Linked DNA regions of Homo sapiens. The protein of the gene in region 1 purifies or fractionates together with the protein of each later gene. This does not show direct contact. Each region holds a gene or a part of one and is shown on either strand. Other genes may lie near its edges.

Evidence for each region.
Region 2: the proteins of PLAA (region 1) and PARP6 fractionate together in Homo sapiens (co-fractionation; one large-scale study listed by BioGRID). This does not show direct contact.
Region 3: the proteins of PLAA (region 1) and XPNPEP1 fractionate together in Homo sapiens (co-fractionation; one large-scale study listed by BioGRID). This does not show direct contact.

Annotation. Positions count from the first base shown.
Region 1 is NC_000009.12:26,923,170-26,926,822, forward strand, and holds part of PLAA (phospholipase A-2-activating protein), read right to left. Parts: intron 3,392-3,653; coding exon 3,224-3,391; intron 2,792-3,223; coding exon 2,656-2,791; intron 179-2,655; coding exon 9-178; intron 1-8. UniProt on the Homo sapiens protein: Plays a role in protein ubiquitination, sorting and degradation through its association with VCP. Involved in ubiquitin-mediated membrane proteins trafficking to late endosomes in an ESCRT-dependent manner, and hence plays a role in synaptic vesicle recycling.
Region 2 is NC_000015.10:72,262,466-72,266,118, forward strand, and holds part of PARP6 (protein mono-ADP-ribosyltransferase PARP6), read right to left. Parts: intron 3,527-3,653; coding exon 3,432-3,526; intron 3,009-3,431; coding exon 2,948-3,008; exon of another isoform or gene 2,805-2,947; intron 2,707-2,804; coding exon 2,616-2,706; intron 2,157-2,615; coding exon 2,090-2,156; intron 1-2,089. UniProt on the Homo sapiens protein: Mono-ADP-ribosyltransferase that mediates mono-ADP-ribosylation of target proteins.
Region 3 is NC_000010.11:109,888,983-109,892,635, forward strand, and holds part of XPNPEP1 (xaa-Pro aminopeptidase 1), read right to left. Parts: intron 2,845-3,653; coding exon 2,740-2,844; intron 1-2,739. UniProt on the Homo sapiens protein: Metalloaminopeptidase that catalyzes the removal of a penultimate prolyl residue from the N-termini of peptides, such as Arg-Pro-Pro. Contributes to the degradation of bradykinin.

The DNA.
Region 1 (3,653 bases):
ATACTTACCAGGTTCATTAAGATGTTCCCTCCCAGGAAGCTGCTCAGCATTGATGTCCCCTAAATCGCCAGTTTTAGAATCAATGGTTGCGTGAGACAGTTCTTTTTCAAAAGCCTTGATTTCTTCAGCACTTGCTGTTCGATCTTCTGATTCTGTAAACACTCTAATAATGCCATCACTGTAAGGAAAAATAAACTGATTTTAGAAGTCATTGCCATAATACATTAACATTATCACACCTGAATGATCCATAGTAAAAATAATCTGTGTTTGTGAATATGAGAAATATTAGCATGTTATTAATTGCTGATTACAGCACTGTGCTGACTTCAGCACATGCTACTCTATTATGTCAACTATTTAATAGAGAAGTTATTGACAAAGAACAGAGAAACATGTATTTTATACAATTTCCAAGTTAAATATTTACCATCATAAGAATCTAGAGCTATAGTATGTACTTTTAAAGTCAATATTTTTTAGTTATTACCATATAGAGAAGGGTAGTGGGCTAGTTTAGTTTATAAAGGGCTCAAAGACCCAATGTAGGGCTTAAAATTAGCAGATGTTCAGTAGACAAATATGGTCATCCTTTACTATGCCAGTAACTAGCAATGTAACTTCAATCAAGGAAAAAAAATGGCCTAATGTTTGGATTAGATGGCCGTCCTTAACCTCTTTTCTCAGAAAAATTACTTTATCTCCATGATTTCTTAATTCGAAATTCTGAGATAGGAGAAGCAAATTAGACACTTCCAACTGTATTAATCCTGGCCCATTCTACAGGAAACCTGTTTCTAACTTATTCGTCCACAAACATGTACATCACTCGTTCTATTGGTTTTTCTTCATATGCTTAGGAGGGAAAAAAACTAAGCCTATAAATCAGCCTCTGTCCCAGCCAAAAAATAAAACACCCACTTTATTAGACCCTCTATCCCTTATAGCTGTCACCTTCTTTTTCTTCTCTTTTTCTTTGAGACAGGGTCCAACTCTGTCACCTAGGCTGGAGTGCAGGGGCGGCAATCACAGCTCACTGCAACCTCAAATTCCCGGGCCCAAGCAATCCTCCCACCTCAGTCTCCTGAGCAGCTGGGACTACAAATGCATGCCACCATGCCCAGCTAATTAAATATTTTTTTTGTATGGAGACAGGGTCTCGGTAGCTCACCCAGGATAGTCTCGAACTCCTGAGCTCAAGCGATCCTCCCACCTGGACCTACCAAAGTGCTGGGATTACAAGTGTGAGCCACAGCAGCTGGCCTTCTTATTGCTTTCAATGCTAGAGTAGCATTATAGAGTAGTCTATGATCCTTCGTCCATCTCCTCCAACCCTTTATTTCCTCTTATTTGCCTTTTTTTCTATCATTTTCTATTCAAAATGTGATTGATGCCAAAAGTCACTAATAACATCTTTCAAACCAAATCCAAATGCTTTTCAAACTTTCCATTCTTTGACTCCTCAAACACTTTTGACACTGATGACAATCTCCCTCCAAAATCTCTCCTTTTCTGTCTCCCAGAAATTTCAACATTTGAATTCCTTTGTTCTGTTTAACCTACTAACTTCTTTTTCTCTACTAATGGTATATCATAAAACTTAGTTCTTAGTCTTCTGTTCCTCCCCTGTATTTCTTCCCTCAGAGAATGGTGTTCTATGCTTTGCTTTTGGAAGCTTTGCGAAATCTTTATCTTAGCCTCAGTTCTTATACTAAGCTCCAGTTCAAATGACCATGATCCACTGGCATGAGTGTGGCTCACCACCACTGCAGACCTCAGGAAGTCTAAGGCCACGGTCATCACCTTCTGTACCCAACCAATTCTCCCACTTCTCCATTTTTATTAATGAAGATTTCCAATCACTAACAGTTTGAAGCTTTATCCTTTTCTTTCATACTTTTTCTGATTGTTTTCCTTCTGGATTATCTCATTTACTTATTTCCTACCCATTAGCATTGTGGGGCCAATGTCTTATAACTTCACACTCCTTCTGTACTTGCTTTCTAATTTACTTTCCTGTCCATTGTCACCAGCAGTTAAATCCAATCTACATATTTAGTAATTCATAAGTTCTGCTTCAATCCTATTTCTTGCTCAAGAACTACAACCCTTCAACCCCAGGCAATGAATCTAAAAAATGCCTGGCATGAAAGCACTAAAGGTTCTCCACAGTTAAGCCCCATTGTACCTATTATCTCAGCATTAGTACTCCACCATTTTCCTTCACTTCCTATGCATGCTGCATTCATTCTCATGAAGGAAACTTATACTCTTAGCTTTGACAAAAATTTGCGTATCTTTTCTCACTCATAATCTTTCAAAATCCAGTTCAAATTTCTTCTTCTACAGAAAGTTTTCCCACACCAATCTCTACCTTCTCTAACTTCTTTTGTAGTCAATATCTTGACTGCACAATTGCAGTACAATACTGGTATATCATGCATCATTGACTGCACAATTGCAGTACAATACTGGTATATCATGCATCCCTTAGTATGAAAGCTATAATATCTACTACTGTTTTGTTTAGTAATTGAAGTGTCCATATAGTCTCCTCAAGTCACGTGAAATTCCTTATGGCTTATCTCTGTACACTCTAGTTCCTACTGAAGGCCTAGACATATAACATTTAATGATTGACTAGAATATAAATACCTCGCACCAACCACAATGTCACCATTGTCGAGCACACAGCAGCACCATATAGACTGAGCTGGAAGTCGGATAGTTTGAGCACATTCCCCATGTTTCCAGATTCTCAGAGATCTGTCCTCTGCTGTTGTCACAAAGTCTAAAATTAATGAATATAGGAAGTATTAGTTTGAATAAAATTAAGTACATTTATACATACCATCTTTCTAGATACACTGACTTTTTGAAACCCAGAGACTTTCAAAATTACAGTTTTAAATTTCATATGTTTGTCACTTACAACATATACAACTTCAAAATCACATTTTTTATTCATGTCACATCTTACAAAGTGTTTCTTCAGATACCCAAGAACTTTTTACAGCACAACATAAATCTGAATTAATATAAAGATGGCCATACAATTTTCTTCTTTGTAAACAGGAGAAAGATACTTAATGAAATAAATTTACTAAATTATTCAAGTCATAGATAGTAAATTAAGTAATCAGCTCTCCTCCCTCCATCTCACAAATGGGATGGAATAATGCTCAATACAAAACATTAAATAAATAGCATAAAATAATCTTACCTCTACAATTTGGAAAAACGGATATGCTATAAATATAATTTGTATGTCCATAATATACTTCAAGACACTCGCCAGTGATTTGCCACCTTCTAATACTAGCATCATTTGCACAGGAAAGAAATTCTGTTTCACTCAAAATTGCCAAACCTCTTACACAGTCTTCATGCCCTGCATTAAAAAACAATAATGCAAATCAATAAAACTGATAATTTGGCTGATGGCTCTATACATTTTACTAACATTATAAAACATATCAGTGAGTAGTAAAAATTAATTTTCAAGTTAGAGAAATCTTTTTTTTTGTTGAAAGCCTGATAACCAAAATTTGTATTTAAGGTTTAGCAATATTTTTTTATCACCAGTCTTCAGAAGTTATTTTACATTCATCCTACCTTCTCCAAAAACCTCCAGAAATAGTATTTTGACCCCA
Region 2 (3,653 bases), on another chromosome or scaffold:
TCAATCATTCCCCTTTCCTGTCAGTTCCTTTCCCAAAGTCAACAAAAGATGTCAACTTTCTGCACCTTAGTCTAGTTAACCTCTCCCTGTTGCCTTCCCATCCCCATACAAATTTCTCAACCCATACTCATTGTTTCTATGTTGTTGCCAACCACTCACCTCCAAACTTTCTGTATTCTGGTTCCTACCTTCACCACTATAATTGTTCTCATCCTGATGCTAAATCCGATGGAAACTCCCAGGTTCTTCTCTTATCTTCTCTGGCATCTGGCCCTCCTTGCAGAACCTGCCCTCCTTTGTCTTCTGTGCCACCATTATCTTCCTATTCTACTCTGACCTACCTGCAGTGTTTCTTCTTCCTCTGCCTACCCTGCTGGTTTCTTTGGGATTTCATCTGAGTGTTTAAGGGTATTTTGTCCTTGATCCTATCTTCTTTTCCCACTATCATGCCTTCCTTTGGCAATCTCATATTCACTGACTGTAACTTCTTCCCACACACATTGATGCATATCTTCAACCCTAACCTCTCCTTTAAGTAGCAAATTGACATATACTCTGGTAAGTAGCAAATTGACATTTCGGATAAGCATCTCTACCTGCATATCTGAAAGTTACCTTTAAATAACATGTCAAAAATGGAACTAATTACCTATCATCATCCTACAAACCTGCTCCCCTCTCATATCCCTATTTACATTGGTGGTATCACAATTTACCCAGACATCTAGGCTGGAAACCTAAATGTATTTTCCACTACTCTTTGGCCCTTATGGCTATATTCAATATATCTAAATCAGTCTTCAAGTCTTATTGATTTTATATCTCACAAATCTTTCTAATCTGTCTCTCATCTCCATTCTCACCTATAATCACACTTTAGCTCTGGCCTTTAGCATCTCTTGTCTTGACTTTTACAAAAGCACCCTACTACACTAGTTCTGGTCTCTTGTCTCATCCCCTCCTACCCATTTTGTATAATGCTACCAGAATGGTTTTTAAAAATAAATCTGACCACGTCATTTCTTTCCCTAAACCCTTCAATGTTCACACTGCCTAAAGGATAAAAGTCCAAGATCCTCTCTAACTTGAACCCTTCCCTATTCTCTGGCTTTGGCTCCTACACCCCCAGCTTGTATTTTACCAGCAATATTTAACTACCTGAAGCTCCCTACACATATACTGCTTTATGTGACTAAGCCCCTGCAAATGTTATTCACCCTCAGAATCTGTCTACATGGACAACTCTTATCCATCCTTGAAAATTACTAATCATTGGCTGGGTGCGGTGGCTCACACCTGTAATCTCAGCACTTTGGGAGGCTGAGGCAGGTGGATCACTTGAGGCCAGGAGTTTGGGACCAACCTGGCCAACATGGAGAAACCCCCATCTCTACTAAAAATACAAAAATTAGCCGGGCATGGTGGTGGGTGACTGTAATCCCAGCTACTTAGGAGGCTGAGGCACAGGAATCACTTGAACTCAGGAGGCAGAAGTTGCAGTGAGCCAAGATCATGCCACTGCACTCCAGCCTGGGTGAGAGCAAGACTCTGTCTCCAAAAAAAAAAAAAAAAGGAAATTATTAATCATCACCCTTTCAACAGACTGAGTCACTCTTCAGTGTCCTTTCTAAACCTTACATATTCACCTGTATTAGAATATGTATCCAGTGGACTCTATTTGAAACTTCACTGAGAGTGGAAAATATGCTTCATTTCTTTGCATACCAAATACCTAGCTTAATGCTCAACACATTCAATAAACTAGAGTTCCTAGAGACTTACTCTGAAGAAACCACTAGAGAAATATGAATAGCATGACTCTGATTTCAGGGTAGTAAAAATGCTAAGTAGTGATGAGCCTCTTTTATCTCTAGAAAGTCTCAGCTTCTGACACCCAAGAACCACATACTCTCTCTCCACAAGCTTAAATCTGGCTCCCTAAATTTATTTTAGCTTTTCCTGGGCATATTTCAGAAAGACATTTTTGGAAGGGGGCATTCCATCCAAGGCTCTGCCTGTCCATCCATATATTTCCACCTCTCTCTCCTTCCTTCACATGTCCATGACCAGAAAAGACCAAAGTTCTTACTTTTTCAACTGAAGACCCAGCCCAAATCCTTCCTTATTTGATGGCTGGAAAACCTCAATGGATGGTTCTGCAAAGAGAAGAGAAGGCTACTAGTAAGTACATATCTCTTGTCTTCCTGGAGTCCAAAGCTCAGTGGAATAGCTTCCATACATTCTAAAGATCATAGCTGCTGGGTACTCTAAACAGTAACGGTGGAAGAAAAAAAACATCTGAGGGAGAGGGCAGATTCTCGAAGCTGTCATATGAATCTGAAATATCCTCAGGAGGATGTTGAGAAAAGGAGGAGAAAGAAATTTTATCTTGGAACCAGAGAAAACAATGTCATTAGGCAAGAAGGCCTTTAGGGAATGGTTATTAGGTGACAGGGGATGAAGATACCAATTACAGGGGACTAAAAAGCCCCTACCAATAGCCTGCAGATTGAGCCCAAGGACCTTGTTCCTAATTTTTTTCTACCTCAGTTAACTTAGGGCTTTGGATTAGACCACACTCAGACCACCCACTTGCCCAAAGTCACTGCCTTTACCTGGTCCATCTAGGTACTGGGAGAGAGAAAATCGCAGCCTCAACACAATAGGTTCTGTCCGGAGGACCTTCCAGGCTGTAGAGACTTCCTCCTAAAAGAAGAAGGGAAATAGTTTCCAGTTTAGCAACATAGACGAATGGACCTGAAATTTCCCCTATATGACACACACATGCACATGACAGTACACACCACTGTCTGCTGATGGTCTAGGAAAGACAGAGATGAAGAATATGTGCTCCAAATACAGCACTCGGGAACAAGACTCCTGGCCTACATGACAAATTCCACAAGTCCAGCTAGACATGTTGTTGGCAGGTACTAGCCCCACTTACATCGAGGAAGCTGATGTTGATGTGGAGGTCAATGTCCACGTCATCGATAGTTCCATATTCTCTATAGAGATACAGGTGACAACAGGTGAGACTCATTAAGGGAGAAAGAAGGGAATAGAAACTGAGTTGGAAAGAGAACTGAGCCTGGGGACAGGGGAAAGGGAAGAGTGGATGACAGTTTTGTACCTAGGGTCTTAGCTATAGCCTTACACCACTTACCTGATCAGGATCTACTTCCAGGCCAAAAGCATTTCTTACCTGAAAGGTGAAACTACTGGCCCAGAGGGGTCTAGGATAAGAGGGAATTCCTAAGAAAAGTGGCCTTACTCTCTACTCTCAGCCAAGCTCATTTATTCTGAGCATTTTCTATCATTAAGTTCATAATTTATCCCACTATCATACCATAAAAAGAAAAACCTCTAGCCTTTTAACAACTCAGAAAGAAGTGACTTGCTCCCCTGCCACCCCTGAAGTAGAGTCCCACCTGATGGATACAGAGTTCTCACTGTAGATCTCCTTCACGGCTTCAATGTCTGCATCAAGCTGTGGGTGTCGATACAGGTCAGCTGCACAGCTCCCCTGAGATAGCAGCAAAAATGGTGGTGGAGAGAGGTGGAAAAAGACGAGGGAAAGAGAGAGATAATAAAAAGAATATGAAAAGACACCAGGAACAGGAGAAATCAGACAGCAGTATAGGGGAAGTAAA
Region 3 (3,653 bases), on another chromosome or scaffold:
TGAAGTCTGGGAACTGGGAGACTCCCACATATCACATACCAGGTAAGGTGATAACATGCTCCCAGTGCCCGCCCCTCATCTGCAAGGGCAGGGTGGCCAAGAGAAGGCCGCTGCCCCATAACCAGCCTCTGAATAGAGGGCTAAGCACAAGTCTTGGCAGCAAAGAGATCTTTCCGAAGATTTTAAGAGAGGCACACAGGCACCTGTCCGGTTGTCTTTATTTATTTATTTACTTCTGAAGACAGAGTCTCACTCTGTTATGCAGGCTAGAGTGCGGTGGCACCATCTCAGCTCACTGCAACCTCCACCACCTGGATTCAAGCAATTCTCCTGCCTCAGCCTCCCAAGTAGCTGGGATTACAGGCTCAAAATTACCATGCCCAGTTAATTCTGTATTTTTAGTAAAGACGGGGTTTCACCATGTTAGCCAGGTTGGTCTTGAACTCCTGGCCTCAAGTGATCCTCCCACCTCAGCCTCCCAAAGTGCTGGCCATCCTGTTGCCTTTAACATGAGCCTCTGGGTTCCCCAACTCCCAGGATGAGACAGCCCTTTCTGTTTCTAAGACGCTAGTCATAGGACACTATATCAGCCTCCAGAATAGAACTAAAATTACTTCTATAGTCCAGTTTTCCTTTAATCTAAGCCAACACCTTCCATATCTAGCCAGTTATCTTTGAAATGTATACTTTTTTTAACCAATGAGGTTTTGGCCAAACAATTAACATCTTGATAAAATATACATATATTTAGAGTAAAAGTTCACATATTCTAAAACAGTAGAAACTTATCTTTACTATTTTCTCTACTGACTACTGATACAACCACATAACCATAGAAGGGAAGTGCAAAGGTTTATAAAGAAAGAAGCTCATGAATTCCAATTCTAAAAAACTGCCTAGAAGCTGACATTGAGTTTCATTCTGCTATTTGATTCTTTCCTATTTTTTTTCAAACCACTAAACAAGCCACTTATTAATACAGTTTCTCCTAATGCCCTAGTACACTACATAATATAACTTTCACAGGATGAAGTCATGTCATTTCCTAGCAGACAGATCTTCGGCAAAACCCCAGGGATGAATCACTCACTGGCCAACCAAACCCACCAGAATCTCCCTACACAGAAGACTCGACTGAGGAAACTAGGAAGGAGCCTGGAGGAGAGGAGGACTCACTCCCTCTGCCACCCCCTTGCTGCCACATACCTACATTAAGGAACAGGCAGGCAGTGTTTGCGCCTCTGACCCCCAAAATGCTAACAGACTTAAGAGCTGGAATCCGTGGGCCCCAAAGAGAGATGCCTGCTCCCCAGGGGGACACAATGATCTACTGGGTGCAAGAAGAAAGTAACAGAGCTTCTATTTGTATTTATTTTTTATAAAGAAATTACAAAGTTAGTTTTTGATATTTGGAATATAGAGGAACACTAGCACATATAAATAACAAATAAACAAACATACATACATGTTGCGGGTGCTTGACTCCCATTAACAGAAGCACACAAACAAAAAAATTTAAAGGCCACTAGCTTGTCCATTTATAACAGCCAGCTTCAAATGCCTGCCTTTGTGTGTGTGTGTGTGTGTGTGTGTGTGTGTGTGTGTGTGTGTGAGAGAGAGAGAGAGAGAGAGAGAGAGAGAGAAAGGGAAAGAGAAATCAACTGCAGCAACAGGCAACAATCTGTAGCTTTGGTGTTTTTATATTTATGAAATGATTTTTGAGAAATAGAAACTTAATCCAATGCCAAGACAAAAATGTTCCTTGTTCCTCCCTAAGACAAAGAACACATGTGTGTGTATGTGGAGGGTGTGTGGCATACACCTGAGTGCACACACCCCTCAGTCAGCTGGCTGCCTGGATCTCAAGGTCATGGTCTAGTCCTCTGTTTCCTGCTGTGAGTCTGAGGACTATTTTCTTTCCTCATTATTTCCTACAACAAACAAGAAGCATCAGGTATTTTGTTTCATCTTCTCTTTCTCACTTGGCCCTTCCTTATCTTCTGTTCTCCAAGTTCAAAATTCAGGAAGCAAAGACTTTGTACAGTCCCTAAAACCGTGTTTCTAAAGACTATTTTAATGACAGGAAAGTACACACGGCAGAAAATTAAATGAAAACACAGAGTATATACACACATTATTCAATAAACATTGATCTATATGCTTTCCACATAGTAATGCTTTAATTCTCACCACTTTATATGTTACTTACTGTGATTAACCCATTTTACAGATGAGGAAACTAAAGCACTCAAGTGAAGCGACTAGCCCAAGCAAGTTCCAGACCTGTTCGCTTGTCCTGAATGCTGCTCTTCTCCAGAGCTAAGCTTCCAGAAGCAAATCCAAGATCCTCAGAGAGAGCCTCAGGGGAAAGCTTTCTGGCTTCTGTTGCCAATGACTCCTTGCCTTTATCTCACTCTGAATCATGAGGCAGCAAATAGTAGAAGGCCCCCAGTACAGGAGTGAAATGCACAGCAATGTGATCTGCAGCAAATCAACTGTCCTCTCTAGCCCTCAGTTTCCCCTCAGTAAAATAAGTATCCTGAACCAGCGTCCTCCAAAATTGAATGCACATTGGTACGTATGTATAGGCATGCCATTTTTTTTTTTCTCAGTTTTCCTTGGATTCTCAAAAGGGTCCATGACTGCATAAAAGGATTAAGATCCAGGAGTCCTGAGGACCTCTAGGATCCCTGCCCAGATCAGGCCAACTAAGTTTGGGCTAGCCATGCCTGTACCCACCCATCTTCATAAGTGTCCAGTTGCTGTCCATTTGCTTGGCAGCCTGGAGAAAGTAGCGCCCGTCAGTCCACATGGCTGCATGCTCTTCTGTGATGATGGCTGTGCCTGAAGCAGGGGAGAAAAAAAAAAGAAGAAGAAAGGTTTCTAACAACTGCTCAGAAGCTGCACAAAATGACAGTAGACAGGCAAGAGCAGTAAGAGGCATCAGCTCCTAGTGGGGCAGATGGGTCCTTGACTCCAAAGAAACCTCTGGGCAAGAGAAGACCACACTACTGAAAACAAGCTGTGTGTCAAGCTCTGAAAGAACAGTCCTGAGACCCAAGCTACCTGGCACTGGTCCCTGCACAAAAAGGACTCCACTTGCACAGTATGAGTCAAGAACAGAGAATGGAGAACTGTAGACCTATGGCCAAAGTGGTCTCGTATAATCAACAAGACACAGGGAGGGATGGTTCCTGCTCAGCAATTACAGCCACTCCTCTGCTCCACCAGACACCCCAGGGGAGCTGTTTCACCTTTCCTGGAGAAAGACCAAGTGGGCCCTATGAGTGTTCCTGCTGTGGTCACTAGCAGGAAGCTTATGCCTCCTACCTTTATCTGCCCTCCGTTCCCACAGGCCTGGCAGAACTTGGGGTTTTGGCAGAGGTGTCAGCCAAAGCCAATCCTAATGCGCCAACCAACACAAGCACTTACGCCAAAGGAAGCAGCATGCTAACCATGAGGGGAGGGGAGCTCCCACCTTGTCCAGCTTGCTTTAGAGAACAAACCTGAAGTGGGGAGTCCACCCTAAAACTCAAAGGCATAATGGTTTTGAGGAACACCAATGCAGCTTAGAGTTAACCTTTGTTATTTAAGCCAAGAGTGAAAACAGAAACCAAAAGCCAAGCACTTGGGAGAATTATCTGGGACCAATA